Homo sapiens: one gene and its partners. Each later gene encodes a partner of the first gene's protein in a complex. Each region holds a gene or a part of one and is shown in the gene's direction. Other genes may lie near its edges.

Evidence for each region.
Region 2: PRPF6 (region 1) and PRPF4 share a complex: the UniProt entries of both Homo sapiens proteins name them as parts of the U4/U6-U5 tri-snRNP complex.
Region 3: PRPF6 (region 1) and SNRNP40 share a complex: the UniProt entries of both Homo sapiens proteins name them as parts of the U4/U6-U5 tri-snRNP complex.
Region 4: PRPF6 (region 1) and LSM2 share a complex: the UniProt entries of both Homo sapiens proteins name them as parts of the U4/U6-U5 tri-snRNP complex.
Region 5: PRPF6 (region 1) and LSM7 share a complex: the UniProt entries of both Homo sapiens proteins name them as parts of the U4/U6-U5 tri-snRNP complex.

The regions. Positions count from the first base shown.
Region 1 is NC_000020.11:64,025,842-64,029,853, forward strand, and holds part of PRPF6 (pre-mRNA-processing factor 6), read left to right. Parts: intron 1-97; coding exon 98-217; intron 218-1,140; coding exon 1,141-1,317; intron 1,318-1,761; coding exon 1,762-1,895; intron 1,896-2,636; coding exon 2,637-2,728; intron 2,729-3,535; coding exon 3,536-3,650; exon of another isoform or gene 3,651-3,844; intron 3,845-3,950; exon of another isoform or gene 3,951-4,012. UniProt on the Homo sapiens protein: Involved in pre-mRNA splicing as component of the U4/U6-U5 tri-snRNP complex, one of the building blocks of the spliceosome.
Region 2 is NC_000009.12:113,285,578-113,289,589, forward strand, and holds part of PRPF4 (U4/U6 small nuclear ribonucleoprotein Prp4), read left to right. Parts: intron 1-615; exon of another isoform or gene 616-631; coding exon of another isoform or gene 632-654; coding exon 655-713; intron 714-1,127; coding exon 1,128-1,251; intron 1,252-2,597; coding exon 2,598-2,687; intron 2,688-4,012. UniProt on the Homo sapiens protein: Plays a role in pre-mRNA splicing as component of the U4/U6-U5 tri-snRNP complex that is involved in spliceosome assembly, and as component of the precatalytic spliceosome (spliceosome B complex).
Region 3 is NC_000001.11:31,282,920-31,286,931, reverse strand, and holds part of SNRNP40 (U5 small nuclear ribonucleoprotein 40 kDa protein), read left to right. Parts: intron 1-4,012. UniProt on the Homo sapiens protein: Required for pre-mRNA splicing as component of the activated spliceosome. Component of the U5 small nuclear ribonucleoprotein (snRNP) complex and the U4/U6-U5 tri-snRNP complex, building blocks of the spliceosome.
Region 4 is NC_000006.12:31,800,150-31,804,161, reverse strand, and holds part of LSM2 (U6 snRNA-associated Sm-like protein LSm2), read left to right. Parts: intron 1-4,012. UniProt on the Homo sapiens protein: Plays a role in pre-mRNA splicing as component of the U4/U6-U5 tri-snRNP complex that is involved in spliceosome assembly, and as component of the precatalytic spliceosome (spliceosome B complex).
Region 5 is NC_000019.10:2,323,106-2,325,900, reverse strand, and holds part of LSM7 (U6 snRNA-associated Sm-like protein LSm7), read left to right. Parts: intron 1-1,704; coding exon 1,705-1,776; intron 1,777-2,795. UniProt on the Homo sapiens protein: Plays a role in pre-mRNA splicing as component of the U4/U6-U5 tri-snRNP complex that is involved in spliceosome assembly, and as component of the precatalytic spliceosome (spliceosome B complex).

The DNA.
Region 1 (4,012 bases):
CTGGCTCAGTTCCTGCCTGCCTGCTTTTGATTAAGTGTGATCAGGCGCTGGTCCCTGTGTTCTGACCCCTCTTGACGCTGCTGTACTTGCCCTTCAGGCCAACCCCAACAGTGAGGAGATCTGGCTGGCAGCCGTGAAGCTGGAGTCCGAGAATGATGAGTACGAGCGGGCCCGGAGGCTGCTGGCCAAGGCGCGGAGCAGTGCCCCCACCGCCCGGGTACGCAGTGGCAGGCAGGGCTGGGCCGTCTGGGGTGCATGGTGTGCACATGCGGGCCCCACGCCTGGCTTGGGTGGTGATGGGAGTGAGATGACGGCAGGCAAACGAGACCACAGCACACTCATCTTTGTGATGTGACTAAAACATTCATGTGGCCGGGCGTGGTGGCCGGGCGCGGTGGCTCACGCCTGTAATCTCAGCACTTTGGGAGGCCAAGGCGGACAGATCACCTGAGGGTGGGAGTTTGAGACCAGCCTGACCAACATGGAGAAACCCCGTCTCTACTAAAAATACAAAATTAGCCGGGCGTGGTGGTGCGTGCCTGTAATCCCAGCTGCTCGGGAGGCTGAGGCAGGAGAATCGCTTGAACCCCGGGGGTGGAGGTTGCGGTGAGCTGAGATCGCGCCACTGCACTCCAGCCTGGGCAGCAAGAGGGAAACTGTCTCAGCAACAACAACAACAACAAACATGTTCATACGGCCGGGTGTGGTGGCTCACGCCTGTAATCCCAGCACTTTGGGAGGCCAAGGCAGGTAGATTGTGAGATCAGGAGTTCGACACCAGCCTGACCAACTCTGCTAAAAATACAAAATTAGCTGGGTGTGGTGGCTTGCACCTGTAGTTCCAGCTACTTGGGAGGCTGAGGCAGGAGAATGGTGTGAACCCAGCAGGTGGAGCTTGCAGTGAGCCGAGATCGTGCCACTGCACTCCAGCCTGGGTGACAGAGCGAGACTCTATCTCAAAAAAAAACAAAACAAAACAAAAACATATATTTATCCCCACCTTTTGTGTACACAAACAGGCTATGAAAAGCTTACAAAAGTACACACAGTACTGCAGGTAACAGTGTTGAGGATGAGTGTACCATGAAGCACGTACCCTGGAGCTGATGCCCTGCGTGACAGTGCATGTCTGCCCCACAGGTGTTCATGAAGTCTGTGAAGCTGGAGTGGGTGCAAGACAACATCAGGGCAGCCCAAGATCTGTGCGAGGAGGCCCTGCGGCACTATGAGGACTTCCCCAAGCTGTGGATGATGAAGGGGCAGATCGAGGAGCAGAAGGAGATGATGGAGAAGGCGCGGGAAGCCTATAACCAGGGGGTACGTCTCTGCCTGCACCCTGGGGCTGCAGCTGACCCGGCATTCACAAAACTGAGCCCCCTGGTGCAGGGTCATTGCCCTTCGCCTCTGAGGAGATGTGGAGGGCTGGGGGTTACAGCTGATGGAGCTGCAGACTCAGGACCCAAACCCTGGTCCCCTCGCTGAGTTCTGTGCTTTTCCTTATATGAAGCTGCACACACTGCTCAGAAGTGCAGAGTGTGGCACACCTGCAGTAAAGGCTGGTACGTACAGACCTGTGTGCACAGGTCCACAGCACCACCGCACACCTGTACACCCACAAATGCAGAGTGTGAGGGGTGTTTTTCCATGGACATGGCAGCCCTGAGGGACTCGGTCACCCACTGCAGATGAGAAGCTGGGCATGGCTGTGTCCCAGTTCTTCATAGACACCACCTGAGCTGCTCTCTTACTTGTTGGTTGCAGTTGAAGAAGTGTCCCCACTCCACACCCCTGTGGCTTTTGCTCTCTCGGCTGGAGGAGAAGATTGGGCAGCTTACTCGAGCACGGGCCATTTTGGAAAAGTCTCGTCTGAAGAACCCAAAGAACCCTGGGCTGTGGTGAGTCCTGGAGGGGGCAGCCTGGCCTCTGGGCACAGCTTCCCCATCAGGTGGGCCGCCGTCACCCAGCTGCTTGTGTGGAGTCACTCGTGCAGTGCTTCCAGGCTCAGGGGCTTGGGGGGCGGTAGGTGCTGGCCATGAAAAATCACGGTCCCTGCCTTAGGAGAGTTCGGCCTAGGTACTGTGACAGGCCTGTAGATGGTTTGATGCAGTTTAATTTGTGTTCTGATGGAGGGCGCCTGGGAGAGGGAGGGGTTAATGATGGCTGGGACGAGGGAAGGATGGACCCCGGAGAGCCAGCTCCACAGAGGAGGTGGCGTGGAGAGCCCTGGAGGTGGACAGGAGCCTGCTAGGTGCAGGCTCTGTTCATGGAGGTGCTGCGTCCAGCTCAGGGTGACGGGGCTGGAGCACTGTGCAGGCACTGCCGCAGACAGGCAGCTTCTGGGTGCCTTGTGCGGCCCTGGCTCTCCCAGTCTGGTCTTGTTTGTTCTGGATGCCTTCACCTGCATCTGGACAGCGTCAGGATCTGAGGTCTTGCCTTGGGGCGGTTGCCAGTGGGGCTGGCAGGGATGTGGGCCCCAGCGCCTTGTTTCTGTGGTGGATGAGCTCTGCTGTGGAGGGAATGGAGTTTTTGCTGCTGTGACTGGGTGGAGAGCCCTTTCAGACAAGGCTTCCCAGAAGCTACCAGAATATGTGCTGTTGGTAGACGGCTGTGGGACCTCCGGGGGCCTGTCTCCTCAGGTTGGAGTCCGTGCGGCTGGAGTACCGTGCGGGGCTGAAGAACATCGCAAATACACTCATGGCCAAGGCGCTGCAGGAGTGCCCCAACTCCGGTAAGGGGGTGCCCCGACTCCGGTAAGGGGGTGCCCTGACTCCGGTAAGGGGGTGCCTTGACTCCGGTAAGGGGGTGCTTCCTGGCTTCCCAGACTCCGCAGGGCTGGCACTTCCTGAGGGAGTGGGGGCTCAGGCTTCAGACGGACTTTATTAAAATGTGTAGTTTGTGTGAATCATTTCAGTCAAAAGTTTCAGCTATACTCGGCCGTTAAGACAACTTAATGAAATTCTTGGCCTCAAAATGGGAGAATTTGATTTCATTTCTGAAGTGTTATCATTTCTTTTTCTTTTAAAATTTAAAAGAAATTGGCCAGGTGTGGTGGCTCATGCCTGTAATCTCAGCACTTTGAGAGACTGAGGCGGGAGGATTGCTTGAGTCCAGGAGTCCATTGCTTGAGACCAGCCTGGCCAACATGGTGAAACCCCGTCTCTACTAAAATACAAAAATGAGCTGGGCATGGTGGCGGGCGCCTGTAATCCCAGCTACTCGGGAGGCTGAGGCAGGAGAATTGCTTGAGCCCGGGAGTGGGAGGTTGCAGTGAGCTGAGATTGCGCCATTGCACTCCACCCTGAATGACAGAGTGAGACTCTGCAGGGTGTCCAGTCTGTGCCCTCAGGGCTGCCATGGTTTTGGGTGGGCCAGAGTGCTCATCCTTTGTGGTTCTCCTTGCACAAGTTCTGCGAGCCGTGTGTGGGAGGCCCCTGTCGTGGTCTGAGGACGTCCCGGGTTAGAATCTGTAGGCTGGGCACCTTTCCGGAACCAGAGGCTGGAGTGCAAATCTTTGTTCTTTGTTTCTGAATTATAGGTATCCTGTGGTCTGAGGCCATCTTCCTCGAGGCAAGGCCCCAGAGGAGGACCAAGAGCGTGGATGCCCTGAAGAAGTGTGAGCATGACCCCCATGTGCTCCTGGCCGTGGCCAAGTGAGTGGGGCCCCCACAGGATTGCTGAACCTCGGGGTCCTAATGGGCTCTTTTTCCAGAGTCTGTCTGCCTCTTCCTGGTCATTGTAAAGATGCCCGGCAGCAGGGTGGGCTTCCCCGATCCTCGGCTGCCGTCGCTCCTGCTGTGGTCTGGGGCAGGCGCCTCTCCTGGCAGACACACCTGAGGGTGCCGTGGTCAGAGACTCACTGGGGACGCATGTGATTCACACTGGTGCGCTGGCCGCCGGGTCACAGACTCACTGGGGACGCGTGTGATTCACACTGGTGCGCTGGCCGCCAGGTCAGAGACTCACCGGGGACGCATGTGATTCACACTGGTGCTCTGGTCGCCGGGTCAGAGAC
Region 2 (4,012 bases), on another chromosome or scaffold:
CCGTGTTAGCCAGGATGGGCTCGATCTCCTGACCTTGTGATCTGCCCGCCTTGGCCTCCCAAAGTGCTGGGATTACAGGTGTGAGCCACAGCGCCTGGCCCAAAAAATTTTTAAAAATTTATTTAATTTTTTAAAACGTTAGCCAGGTGTGGTGGCATGCGCCTGTTAGTCCCAGCTACTCAGGAGGCTGGGTGATAGAATTGCTTGAGCCTGGGAGGTTGAGGCTGCAGTGAACTGTGATCACACTACTGCACTCCAGCCTAGGTGACAGAGTGACACTGTTTCTCAAAAAAAAAATTTAAATACTTTGTAATCAGCAAAATACTATTCATATTTAAGGACAGTATCACTATTAATATTCGTATTATTGGATAGTTTAATTTGCCCCACCTTCCCTCACAAGTGGATCCAAAAGTTAAGGAGAATGGCTACTGGTGTAGTGTTAATTATAGTCCAGTAAAAGCCTCTGGTTGCGTGTGGGCTGGAGGTAGCTTTTTCTTCTATAACCCTTCTAACTATAAGGCTTTTATTTTTCTGTCAGCCATTGTAAAGTTTATTGGGGGTGAGAAGAGATTGTCCTTTAGTAATATTACCAAGGTACCTTTTCCTTCCCAGACCAACCCTGGCTGAGATGCTTTCCTTTGTATTTGATAGGAGTGGGCTTTGCAAGCTCTGGTCTGTTCCTGATTGCAACCTCCTTCACACTCTTCGAGGTAAGTTAGAGTCTTATCCAAATCTCGGTCTTTTTCCCAGTGTGAACTCAGTTAAGCCTTAAACTCTGCTTGACACTCAGACCCCATACACACAGCATTAATCCTTGATTTGATTTGACTTGGTTTTCTCTGGCTGCAAGACTGGACTATCACAACTTCCTACACATCCACTTTTCTCTCATGTGCAGTCACACTCTGGCATTTTATAATCTCTAAACCAAAAACCAAAATGGGTTTTTTTGTGTTTTGCTTTTTTAAAAATGTAATTTAAATATTAGCTTAAATTAAAATAGTTCATGTTTTAATAGTTGAATAGTCACTTGAATACTCTGTATGTCCACATGTTCCCTAGTATATAACATGGGTTATAAAGAGGCAGGAACCTTTTAACTTGCATCTCTTACACTCCTTTAGGGCATAACACAAATGTAGGAGCAATTGTATTCCATCCCAAATCCACTGTCTCCTTGGACCCAAAAGATGTCAACCTGGCCTCTTGTGCGGCTGATGGCTCTGTGAAGCTTTGGAGTCTCGACAGGTGAATATCACTGTTCTGTGGCCCATACTGCCATCACTAAAGTAGATGTTTGATTGGTTGGTCCCCAGGACCTCAGTAAAAATCTGGCATTTAGGCCATGCGCAGTGGCTCACACCTTAAGGCTGAGGCAGGAGAATTGCTTAAACCCGGGAAATGGAGGTTGTGGTGAGCCGAGATTGCACACTGCACTCCAGCTTGGGTGACAGAGCAAGACTCCGTCTTGAAAGAACAAAAAAAAAAATCTGGCATTTAACCCCCAAGATGGTTTAAGAGTCAAGGTAACCTAGTGTGAAAATGAAGTAAGTGGAAGATTTCATTCTTAGGCCTTTTCTTACTAAAGGAGTTATGTCCGTTTTTTCTTACCTGTTAACTTTGGATCTTGATTTTTGTCTATAGCCTAGTGACCACTATTTCCTAGCTCCATTTATTCCAGAAAGATCCAGCCTACCTCCTACATGATAAATTAACAATGAACTAAATATAATATTCTTGGCAGTTCGTTGGTTCTTAGCAAACAGCCACAGGGGAGAGGAAAGTGAGGTTCTGTCTAGCAGTATTACCACGGAGATGTCTCCTCGCAATAGCATCATCCTTTACCTAGAATGTATTTTCCAACTACAACAGTTTTTAAAAATGTGTTTATGTGATTGTTTTCCAAAAAAAAAAAAACTTCGGAAGCACCCTGTTGGCCAAAAGGCATCTGAATTTAATTGTTTAGTTTTCTTTCTTTGGGAAAACACATGAAGGTTTTTACTTGAGAATTTTTATGAGAGCTAATTAATGTCTTCACTCCTCACCAGACAGGGTCTCACTTAGGAGCGCAGTGAGTTTTAATTGGCTTTGGTAATACTTAGCAATGTTTATTCCCCTTGGGCTTTGGCTTGTTCTGTGTATGCACATTGACAAAGTTCCCTTTTTAATTGCGTTCCTTAGAGTTCATGTTTATTTCCTTTTGCTGATGTTCAGATCTTTTGGTGGTTGCTGGGTAGCAGAATTTAATGGCCACCAAAAGGAGACTAAGCCTCATCTCTATTTAGGAGTTCCTTTTTCATTTGGATCTTGGAACAGGCCTAAATTTGAAAAAGGTTTATCTGTAATCCACTTGTACCAAAACTATGTGATTTCTGTGTCCTTATATCTCTTCCAAAGCATGTTTTCTTTCTAGAATCCAGGTACTCCTTTGGTGCAGAATGACTATTTTGCTTATTGGGCCAAAGTAGTTTACAAGTGTAGTTACAATTTAGCCTCTCGTGTTGTACAGAATGGGTATGTCTGCACAGAAGGTAAGCAGTTTTGTGACTATTTATATGTCTATAAAATTGTTTATATGTTTGGTTCCTTTCCAGTGATGAACCAGTGGCAGATATTGAAGGCCATACAGTGCGTGTGGCGCGGGTAATGTGGCATCCTTCAGGACGTTTCCTGGGCACCACCTGGTGAGCCATCCTGTTATTGTTTTATCCATATAGGCCTGTAGCATCTTCTTAACCCTTTATGGCTATCTGCCAGGTAAATTTTTAGAGCAGAGATCTTCAGGTAGGATTTTCTTGGGCTGCAGGGAATTGGAATCAGAGGAGAATGTTTAATATAGTGAGAGCTAAGTATATTTGCCTTTTTTTTTTTTTTGAGGTGGAGTCTCACTCTGTCACCCAGGCTGGAGTGCAGTGGCGCGATCTCGGCTCACTGCAACCGCCGTCTCCCGGGTTCAAGCAATTCTCCTGCCTCGACCTCCCGAGTAGCTGGGACTACAGGCGCGTGCCACCATGCCCAGCTAATTTTTTTATTTTTAGTAGAGACAGGGTTTCACCATGTTGGCCAGGCTGGTCTTAAACTCCTGACCTCAGGTGATCTTCCCGCCTCAGCCTCCCAAAGTGCTGGGATTATAGATAACAGGTAACGCGCCCAGCCATATTTGCCTTTAAATTACAATTAATCTGAAATTTCAGAGTTACAAATTACCAGAAAACAAGGATTTTCACTCTTGTCCAATGCTACAGGTATATAAGTCTCCCTTCCTGGTTCTGTAAGTTCAGGGAGGCTAGAATCTGTTAGAGAACTTTTCCATTAAGTTATAATTTACATACAATGGAATGGATTTATTTTAAGTGTACAATGCTGTCAGTCTTTACAAACGCGTACCATTCCTGTGATCGACACCTCTGTCAATATAGAGAATAGTCCATCACCCCAGAAAGGTCCCTCATGCCCTTTTCCAGCCAACTCCCCCTTCTAAAGCAACTGCTGATCTGACTTCTATCACCACAAATTAATTATGTCTATTCATACTGTGAATTCATTTGTGGCAGGCTTCTTTCAGCATAACATTGTTAAGAGTCATTCATGTTGTTGCATGTATCAGTAATTCCTTTTTATTGCTGGGGGTTATTCATTTTTATGACTGTGCCATAGTTTATCCATTCTCCTGTTGATGGACACTTGGGCTGTTTCCAGGTCTGGGCCAGTCAGAATGAAGCTGCTATAAATATTCTTGTACCAGGCTTTTTGTGGACATGAGTACAATTGCTGGGTCATAGGGTAGAGGTATGAGATGTATATTTAACTTTTTCTAAACTCCCCACCAGTTTTCCAAAGCGGTTACACCATTTTACATTCCCGGAGTTCTGGTTACTTCACATCCCTGTTAACATTTGGTGTTGTCAGTCTTACCATTTTGCCCAATCTAGCAGGTGTGTAGTGATCTCCCGTGATTTTCATTCTTATTACCCTGATCATTATTGCTCTTGAGTGCTCTGTCATATGC
Region 3 (4,012 bases), on another chromosome or scaffold:
TATAAATTTCCCTTTCATGAGCAGTTCAGTCCTAAAGCCAGTTATATAGGCCAAAGCAGGGAAGGTGCTCTAGTTAGAGATGGGCCAAGGTGGCCCAGAGTAGAGTGTCAGAGCACAAGTGTGGTAAGGAGAGCATCCACACTGGGCAGGGCAGTACATTGTAGGGAGTAGTCAGAGAGTGAGGAAGGCATCCATACAACACAGGGTAGGTAACCAGTGTGGGGAATTTGAGGGTGAGGGAGGGGCAGCAGCCCAACAGTGCCCTAATGGGGTGAAAGGGTCGCCTGTACGTGAAGCAGTACGGGGAGAATGTGGATGTCAAAGCCTGAACTGAGGGCATCCACACAGGGTAGAAATGATTTGGTGTAGGGAGTCTGAGACTGAGCAAGATGATGACTGCATGCTTGGAGAAGTGCAGACTGGAAAAGAGCCGTAGCAGAGTGATGAGGGTGTTCACACAGAGGAATGACCCAAGTTGGTTAAGGAAGAGTCACACATGGCTTCAACCAAGAATGGGAATCACAATTCAAGTAGGGAAGGGTGGAAGAGAATATGGGAAACTGGTTGCATGCAGGAAGCATAATCAAATAAGTGAATATATTGAATTTAATGGGAGGCTGATTTCTCTGTCCAAGAACAGAGTTACCAGTACAAAAGAGAAGACTAAAATGAATCTTGTGTGAGGTATAAGTGTGAACTCACAATATTCAATATAGAAACATATAGAAAAAAATAGACATAAATGTGTGAGTGTGTGTGTGTGTGTACCTAAATGTACATATATTGCCTGACTGTCCACTGAAAAGGTTTAGGAGCAACAAGACCCCAATAGCAATAGCACCCCTTACTGCACAGGTACTGTTTTCCATTAAAAGGAACCAGGGCTCCTATTTCAGCCCAGGGGCAGTGAAAGTACAAGATAAGCCTTGTACTTGTCAAGGCTTATTTTGTCAAAAGAACATCCTAACTAAATTATCAAATCGACCTAATTAGTAATGGGACAAGACAAAATCATGAACCATTTGCTAGGATACAACAAAGATGCAGCATCATTTCTGTGATATTCCTACCAAAGATGTATAACTTAAATCTAATCAAGAGGAAACATAAGACAAACCTAAATTGGGGATGATGACCTGTAACTTTCAGAAGTGTTGAGTTCATAAAACTCAAGGAAAGTTTGAGAGAGTCTTGCAGACTGGAGTCTAAATTTAACATATGATTCCAGACTGAATCCTTGTGCAATAAGACATTTGGGATAACTGGTAAAACTTGAGTGGGATTTGAGGATAAAATGGTGATAGTGTATCTGTATTTCTTGATTTTGATGGTTATGTTGAGATGATGTAGGAGAACATCTTTGTAGGACAGACACTATTTAGGAGTGATAAGGGGCCAGGTGCAGTGGCTTATGCCTGTAATCCTAGCACTTTGGGAGGCCTAGGCAGGTGGATCACTTGAGGTCGGGAGTTTGAAACCAGCCTGGCCAACTTGAAGAAACCCTGTCTCTACTAAAAATACAAAAAAGCCGGGCATGGTGGCAGATGCCTGTAATACCAGCTACTCAGGAGGCTGAGGAAGAATTGCTTGAACCCGGGAGGTGGAGGTTGCAGTGAGCGGAGATCACGCCACTGCACTCCAGAATGAGCAACAGACAGAGTGAGACTCCCATCTCAAAAAAAAAAAAAAGGTGATAAGGCATTGGGTAAGCAACTTACTCTCAAATGATTTAGACCAAAAAAAGTGTTCTTTTTACTTCCAAGTTTTCTATAAATTTATGATTGCTTCAAAGTAAAATAATTATTAAAAGTGGTAGTTATCTGGAACTAAAATTCTAAATTATTTTAAACAAACTTTGACTACCATGACTTTTAGGAGAAAGACAAAGATAGATTTGACCTGAGTGAAGTATCTATTGAGACAAAGATTATAGTACAGTTTATAAAATATATAGGATCTAAATTATTAAGGCCTTGAATTCCAGGTTAAGAAGTTTGGACTTGATTCTGTAACCACAGGAGTTGGGGGAGTAGGAGATGTTGGGCATGTAGGAGAGGAGTGAAGCGTTCTTTTTAGACCATTTATCTGAGTAATGAACTAATTTTTAGTTCGTATTTACATGAACAAAGAAGAAACTACTTTTCATCCTAAACCATGAGAATTGGGAGGAAGAGGCATCTTGGCACAGATCCTACTCAGACTCTCCTTGTTGACTACAGGATTGAAGTTAAGCCTATGACCTTCCCTAAAGTTCCATGGCTGATTCCTTTCTTTTTGATGCCAGCCCTTTAAAACTTGGAACAGTCATCCCAAAGTCTCTTTCTTCTGAATGAAACGACCCATACTTTTAAATCATTTACTTGTGGTTCATCTTCTCAAGTGTGTCATTCATTTATTGAAACATCTCTGAGCCCTCTCTGTGTTATCCACGCTTTAAAAAAGTAGAGCTATAAGGGTTTGTTTGTTTAAGAGATGGGGTCTTGGCCGGGTGCAGTGGCTCACGCCTGTAATCCCACCACTTTGGGAGGCCAAGGTGGGTGGATCACCTGAGGTCAGGAGTTCGAGACCAGCCTGGCCAACATGGTGAAACCCCCGTCTCTTCTAAAAATAGAAAAATTAGCTGGGCGTGGTGGCGCATGCCTGTAATCCCAGCTATCCAGGAGGCTAAAGCAGGAGAATTGCTGGAACACGGAAGCAGAGGTTGCAGTGAGCCGAGATGCCGCCACTCTCACCCAGGCTGGAGTACAGATCCGCAATCACGGCTCACTGCAGCCTCAACCTCTCTGGCCCAAGCGATCCTCCCATCTCAGCCTCCCAAGTAGCTGGGACTATAGGCATATACCACCACACCCAACTTTTTGTTTTTATTTTGTAGAGATGAGGAATCACCATGTTGCTCAGGCTGGTCGCTAACTCTGGGCTAAAGCCATCCTCCTGGCCTCGGCCTCCGAAAGTGCTGGGGTTACAGGCATGAGCCACCATACCTGGCCCTCTAAGAATTTTATAGTTTTAGCTCTTACATTTAGGTCCTTGATCCATGTTGAATTAATTTTTGTGTATCATGTTAGGCAGGGGCTTACCTTCATTCTTTGGCATGTGGTTAGCCAGTTGTCTTAGCACAATTTGTTGAGAAGACTACTTTTTCCTTCTATATGGACCATAGTTACTTGCTTCTTTGCATGCCTTATATTTTGTTGAAAACTAGGCATTTAAATATTATAGCGTGGTGACTCTGGAAATTAGGTCCCCAGAGCTGCTTATTGTAGTTGTTTGTTTAGTGACTTTCTGTGGGTTGGGGTAAGGTGAGAGTGGTTGGTTGGTTGGTTTTTGAGACGAAGTCTCGCTCTGTAGCCCAGGCTGGAGTGCAGTAGTGCGATCTTGGCTCACTGCAACCTCCACTCCCCGGGTTCAAGTGATTCTTGCACCTCAGCTTCCTGAGTAGCTGGGGTTACAGGGGCACACCACCATGACCAGCTAATTTTTGTATTTTTAGTAGAAACAAGGTTTTACCATGTTAGCCACGCTGGTCTTGAACTCCTGACCTCAAGTGATCCATCCACCTCGGCCTCCCAAAATGCTGGGATTACAGGTGTAAGCCACCATGCCCGGCCTGTTTAGTGAATTTTTGAACTAATTTTGTAAAGTTTGTATTCTTTGTCCTGTGTGACCACTGAATTCTTTTTTTCGTTAGCTTAGTGGTCAGCTAGTGAATGACACAAGTTTCCTAAATTACCTACAACAACAAGAACAAAAATTCTCCCAGTCTTTGCAGATTGTCTTTTTGTATGTTGGAGCCTGCCTTCAACTCCTTGCCATGCAGTTTACATCTCTCCTTAGCTTTCACTTCCTGCTTGTGCAGAGCCTGAAGGTGAACCAGAGAGCTTACGGCCTTCTCAGATCTTTTCTAAGTATGTGCCCAGCCCTGGACATGCAAGTGGTCTAGATTGCCAGGAATGGGCCAGGCGTGGTGGCTCATGCCTGTAATCTTAGCACTTTGGGAGGGTGAGGCAGA
Region 4 (4,012 bases), on another chromosome or scaffold:
CTTGAACTCTCGACCTTGTGATCCACCTGCCTCAGCCTCTCAAAGTGTTGGGATTACAGGCGTGAGCCACTGCGCCTAGTCCTACTTTCTTTCTTAAAATAATATTTATTTATTTAAAAATTAGAGACAGTGCCTCACTTTGTTGCTCAGGCTGGTTTCAAATTCTTTGAGTTCAAGCAGTCCTCTTGCTTCAGCTTCCCAAAGTGCTGGGGTTACGCGCATGAGCCAGCACACCTGGCCCTGTACTTATCTGTACAGTCCTTTAAATAATATGTACATTTAGGCCAGATGCGGTGGCTCATACCTGTAATCCCAGCACTTTGGGAAGTCGAGGCGGGTGGATGCCTGAGGTCACGAGTTTGAGACTAGCTTGGCCAACATGGTGAAACTCCATCTCTACTAAAAATACAAAAATTAGCCAGATGTTGTGTTGTGCGCCTGTAATCCTAGCTGCTCAGGAGCCTGAGGCTGGAGAATCACATGAACCCGGGAGGCGGACGTTGTAGTGAGCTGAGATCAGGCCACTGCACTCCAGCCTGGGCGACAGACTGAGACTCCATCTCAAAAAAAAAAAAAAAGTACATTTAAAATATTGATACCTGTTACCTCATTATCCTTTAGAAAGATGGGATCAATTGTATTCTCTTCCCAAAAGCGTCTTCCACATTTATTTTTTTGAGATGGGGGTCTCACTCTGTTGTCCAGGCTGTAGTGCAGTGGCACCACCATAGCTCACTCAGCCTCCTGAATAGCTGGGGCTATATGCCACCATGCCCAGCTAATTTTTTAATTATTTGGAGAGGCAGAGTCTCACTGTGTTGCCGAGGCTAGTCTGAAACTCTTGGGCTCAAGCAGTCCTGCCACCTTGGCCTCCCAAAGTGCTGGAATTACAGGTGTGTGCCACTGTGTCTGGCTGTCTTCCACATTTCTATGTGAGATAATTTTTTCATGGGTTACACGTTGACAGGGCAGGGAATGGTGAGGAGAGGGACTTAAGGGCCTTTGCGTTTTAGAACACAGGTTTCCATTTGTAGCACTGGCAATGCAAGTGATATTGATGTGTATAGATTGGGGCCACAGAGCAAGACAAGTACGGTAATCACTATCAGTCTTAGGCAATTTGGTGTGATGACTTGTTTTTGATTCTCCTCTTTTCTCCTTCCTGGGCCTTTTACATGGGAAGCCTAACTGTTGTGTTATAACCCTAGGCCCTAAAGTACCTTTATTTTTTTTATTTTATTTTGTTTTTGAGACAGAGTCTTGCCCTGTCGCCCAGGCTGGAGTGCAATGGCGTGATCTCGGCTCACCGCAACCTCTGCCTCCCGGGTTCAAGTGATTCTCCTGCCTCAGCCTCCCTGGTAGCTGGGATTACAGGCATGCGCCACAACGCCTGGCTCATTTTTTGTATCTTCAGTAGAGACAGGGTTTCACCATGTTGGCCAGGCTGGTCTCCCAACTCCTGACCTCGTGATCTGCCCACCCCAGCCTCCCAAAGTACTGGGATTACAAGTGTGAGCCACTGCACCCGGCCGTAGTAACATTTCTTTTCTTTTTCTTTTTTCTTTTTTTTATTGAGACGAGTCTCGCTCTGGTCGAGTCTACGCCAGGCTGGAGTGCAGTGGTGCTGTAACCTCCGACTCCCTGGTTCAAGTGATTATCCTGCCTCAGCCTCCCGAGTAGCTGGGATTATATGCATGCACCACCACGCCCAGCTAATTTTTGTATTTTTAGTAGAGAAGGGGTTTCACCACGTTGGCCAGGATGGTCTCAATCTCCTGACCTTGTGATCTGCCCACCTCGGCCTCCCAAAGTACTGTGATTACAGGTGTGAGCCACTGCGCCCAGCCTTCTTTTTTTTCTATTTATTTATTTATTTTTGTTTGAGATGGGGTCTCACTCTGTCACCCAGGTTGGAGTGCAGTGGCATGATCTCGGGTCACTGCAACCTCTGCTGCCTGGGTTCAAGTGATTCTCCTGCCTCAGTCTCCCAAGTAGCTGGGATTACAAGTGCCTGCCACCATACCTGGCTAATTTTTGTATTTTTAGTAGACATCGGGTTTCACCATCTTCGTCAGGCTGGTCTTGAACTCCTGACCTCGTGATCCACCTGCCTCGGCCTCCCAAAGTGCTGGGATTACAGACGTGAGCCACTGCACCCGGCCTTTTTATATTATTTTTAAAATTTTTCATAGAGACAGAGTCTCGGCCGTGTTGCCCAGGCTGGTCTTGAACTCCTGGACTCAAGTGATCCTCCCACCTCAGCCTCTCAAAGTGCAGTGACTACAGGTGTGAGCCAATATGTGTGTGGCTTTAAAGTGACTTTTCTGTTGGGATGAGAAAGAAGATCTTTCTCCTTTTTTTTCCTTGAGACAGGGTCTCACTCTGTTGCCCTGGCTGGAGTGCGGTGGCGCGATCTTGGCTCACTGCAACCTCTGCCTCCTGGGTTCAAGTGATTCTTCCACCTCAGCCTCCCGAATAGCTGGGATTACCGGTGCATGCCACCACTCCCAGCTAATTTTTTGTATTTTTAGTAGGGATGGGGTTTCACCATGTTGGCCAGGCTGGCCTCAAACTCCTGACCTCAAGTGATCCTCCTGCCTCAGCCTCCCAAAGTGCTGGGATCACAGGTGTGAGCCACCACGCCTGGCCAAAAGTTCTTTCTCTTATGTTTGTTGTCAGACCACTTTTGTGCTATGTATCTCCCCCTCCTTAAGGGACTTAATAAAATGACACCACTTTGTACAATTCCCAAATGTTATTTCACTGCTGGAGATGGTGGGGTGCTGTCAAATGTTTTTCAGCAGCTAGCAATATGGTGAGAACATTACTGAGGCAGTGGGTTTCAGATACTGGGTGTTTGTTTTTGTTTTTGTTATTAGGCAGAGACTCACCCTCTGTCTCAAAAAAAATAATGATTGCCTAGTACTAGTTCATTTAAATTAATTTCCTAGAGCATATTTAAGTGGGTCTTTTTTTTTTTTTTTTTTTTTTGAGACAGATCCTTACTCTGTCACCGAGGCTGGAATGCAGTGGCATGATCTTGGCTCACTGCAACCTCTACCTCCTGTGTTCAAATGATTCTCGTGCCTCAGCCTCCTGTATACCTGGGACTACAGGCATGCACCACACACAGCTAATTTTTGTATTTTTATATTTTATTTTTAAATTTTTTTTTTCCTCCTGGGTTCAAGTGATTCTCGTGCCTCACCTCCTGAGTAGCTGGGATTACAGGTGCACACCACAATGCCCAGCTAATTTTTGTATTTTTTTTTTTTTGAGACGGAGTCTTGCTTTGTCACCCAGGCTGGAGTGTAGTGGTGTGATCTCCGCTCACTGCAAGCTCTGCCTCCCAGTTCACGCCATTTTTCTACCTCAGCCTCCCAAGTAGCTGGGACTACAGGTGCCCGCCACCATGCCCGGCTAATTTTTTGTATTTTTAGTAGAGACGGGGTTTCACCGTGTTAGCCAGGATGGTCTCGATCTCCTGACCTCGTGATCCACCCGCCTCGGCCTCCCAAAGTGCTGAGATTATAGGCGTGAGCCACCACGCCCGGCCAATTTTTGTATTTTTAGTAGAGATGGGGATTCGCCGTGTTGGCCAGGCTGGTCTTGAAGTCCTGGCCTCAAGTGATCCGCCCACCTTGGCCTCCTAAAGTTCTGGGATTATAGGCATGAGCCACCGCACATGGCCTAGACGCTGGGTTTTAAAGACTTTCAGAATTTTACAAAAATTGGGGCAGAGAACTGCCAACTTTATTTTTGGCAAGATAAGGACGTTTTTAAAACTGCTATTTATTACGATTATTTTTATTTATTTATTTTTCTTGAGATGGAGTCTCACTCTGTCACCCAGGCTGGAGTGCAGTGGCTCGATCTCGCCTCACTACAACCTCCACCTCCCGGGTTCAAGTGATTCTCCTGCTTCAGCCTCCCGAGTAGCTGGGATTACAGGCGTCTGCCACTATGCCCAGCTAATTTTTTGTATTTTTAGTAGAGATGGGGTTTCACGATG
Region 5 (2,795 bases), on another chromosome or scaffold:
GGACGGAAGCTTGTATGCAGGCGGGCAGACCTTCTCTGTAGAAGGCCAGACGGCAAATATCTTTAGCTTTGCAGCCCAGATGGTCTCTGTCACAACCACTGAGCTATGCCAGCAGAGCAGGAGAGCCACCCTGGTCAGCGCCTGAGCGGGCGAGTGTGGTGGTGGGCCAGCGAGACTCTGACTTACAGAGAGGAGCGGCGGGCAGGTTCACCTGGGGGTCGTAGTTTGCAGACCCTCCCCCGCACCACCGCACAGGGCGGCCCTCGGTGTGTGTGGAGCAGCCGTGGACGGGCTCTCGGCCCTGCCTTGGGAGGAGACAGGCAGGCAGAATAATGCCCGGGGTGCCTGCTTCCCGAGATTGGTGGTGCCTGCTTCCCGAGATTGGTGGTGCCTGCTTCCTGAGATTGGCGTGGGCGTGCAGAGGGCAGCACCGTAAGGGCTGTGGGTTGGTGTCTGGAGGAAGCACCTGAAAGATGACAGGGGTAAGAAGGAGAGCAGGGAGGGGGTGGCTGCGGGACGCCCCTCAGTGAGCGCAGAGGTGGAGCTGCTGCTGGGCCTCGGCTGCAGGAGCCTGCAGGGCAGTGGAGGGGAGTCCCAGGCAGAGAGGGTGGGCTGGCCTCTGCTGGGGACACACAGCTCCCCCTTCACCCTTCTCAGTGTCACCAGACACTGCGGAGCAGGATCAGATGGCAGAGATCACCACCGGGTCAGAGAGCCCTAACCTAAGTTGGCAAGTTGTGGCCCAAGGCGGCGAAGCTTGAGGGGTGGGGCAGGCAGCGTGGAGAGAGAAGCCACAGAGACCGTCTCAGCCCCCGAAGCCTTTGCACCTGGGTCTCAGAGCATCTCTGTTGCCTGCTCCCCGCAAGCCCTAAGCAGCAGGGCTGGGATTTGTTCTTTTGTATTCCGTGAACTCACTGAGGGACTCAGCACAGGTCAGGCAGCGCAGTCATCACCGCTGTCAGAGCGGAGCACTCTGTCTCCCCTACAGGAAGCCCTGTCCCCATCAGCCATCACTGCCTGTCCCATCCCTGGCCCTGGCACCCACGCATCCCTTCCCTGTCTTTGTGGATTGGCCTGTCCTGGACATTTCATAGAAATGGGATCTCACGGTGCGCAGCCTTCTGTGTCTGGCGTCTCTCACTGAGCGTGACGTCCTCAGGTGCGTCCTCAGGCGCATCCGCGCTGTGGCCTGCGCCAGCCTCGCTCCTCTTCCTGGCTGGTGGTCCCACCGCGTACACGTGCCGCCGCCTGTTTTGCTGCTGCTTTTGAGCTGAGAATTGTTTTTATGACTTTTAAATAGCTAGAAAGGGATCAAAACAAGACTGTCTCACGATGTGGAAATTACATGAAATTCACAGTTCAGTGCCTGTGAGTAGAGCTGACCGGCCGCAGTTCAGCCACACATGGACTCATTACCGAAGCTGCCTCCACCCAGGCAGCCCGAGCCAGCAGCTGTGACCGGCACCCTGTGGCCCACACGGCCAGAAGTGTTTGCCATCTGGCCCCCCGCAGACGTGGTCTGCTGCCTGTGGTGGAGATCACTCTGGAGGCGGCTGTCATCGGCCACTCCCGGGAGCCCTCTCCTACCCTCAGTCCTCCATCCCTGGAGCAGTTAGCCCCATACCTGGGCCATGCTGGGGCGGGCCCTGCGCCCAGGACGGATCTCATGCCTTCTCTTTTCTCTCCCCCGGTGATTTCTCCAAGCCAGTGGAATCCTGAAGGGCTTCGACCCACTCCTCAACCTTGTGCTGGACGGCACCATTGAGTACATGCGAGGTGAGTGGGGTGGCGGCCGAGGCAGGCAGCGGGACGAGGGGGATAGTGGGGTGAGGGGGGCAGCGGGACGAGGGGGGCAGTGGGACGAGGGGGGCAGCCGTGGGGCTCCCTGCTGGCTCTTCTTCTCTCAAACCCACAAAACCTCTGAGTTACCAACGTGAAGCCTCGTGGCGGCCGATGGACGGGCTTGAGCGCTCACTGGTCCTAGACGTCCTCACAAAGCAGGAAACCCCATTGTTGTGGGGCCTGGAGAGACGGGAGCTGCCAGCTCACCCACTGGTCTCTACACACTGACGGGGCGCCCGGCACAGTTAGAGGACAACCTTTTTAAATGTTTTATTATTTTAATTTTTGTTAAATTGGTGACGTGAGAGGCCAGGCACAATGGCTCACACCTATAATCCCAGCGCTTTGGGAGGCCAAGGCAGGAGGATCTCTTGAGGTCAGGAGTTTGAGACCAGCCTGACCAACATGGTGAAACCCCGTCTCCGCTAAAAATGCAAAAAAATTGCTGGGTGTGGTGGCGCATGCCTGTAATCCCAGCTGCTCGGGAGGCTGACGCAGGAGAATCGCTTGAACCTGGGAGGCGGAGGTTGCAGTGAGCCGAGATGGTGCAACTGCACTCCAGCCTGAGTAACAGAGTGAGACTCCGTCTCAAAAAAAAGAGATAAGCTGAGGTCTCACTGTGTTGCCCGGGCTGGTCTCGAACTCCTGGGCTCAAGCCATCCTCCTGCTTCAGCCTCCCACAGTGCTGGGGTTCCAGGCGTGAGCTGTGGCGCCCAGCGGAGAGCAGCCTTGCTGTGGGGTAGTGAGCGTGCCGTGGGGCTCCTCTCGGGCGCCTTTCCTCTTCTGCCCTTGTTAATTCCCGCTATGAACGCAGGGTCCCTGTCTCCTCCCCAGAGGACCCTCCCTCATTTCCCTGCCCCCGCTCGCTCCCCTCCCCAGTGAGGCCGCCAAGTCCTCAGACTCTCCCCCAGAAGCTCCTGCGGCAAGTCCCCAGCTGGCAAGTCCCCATCCCG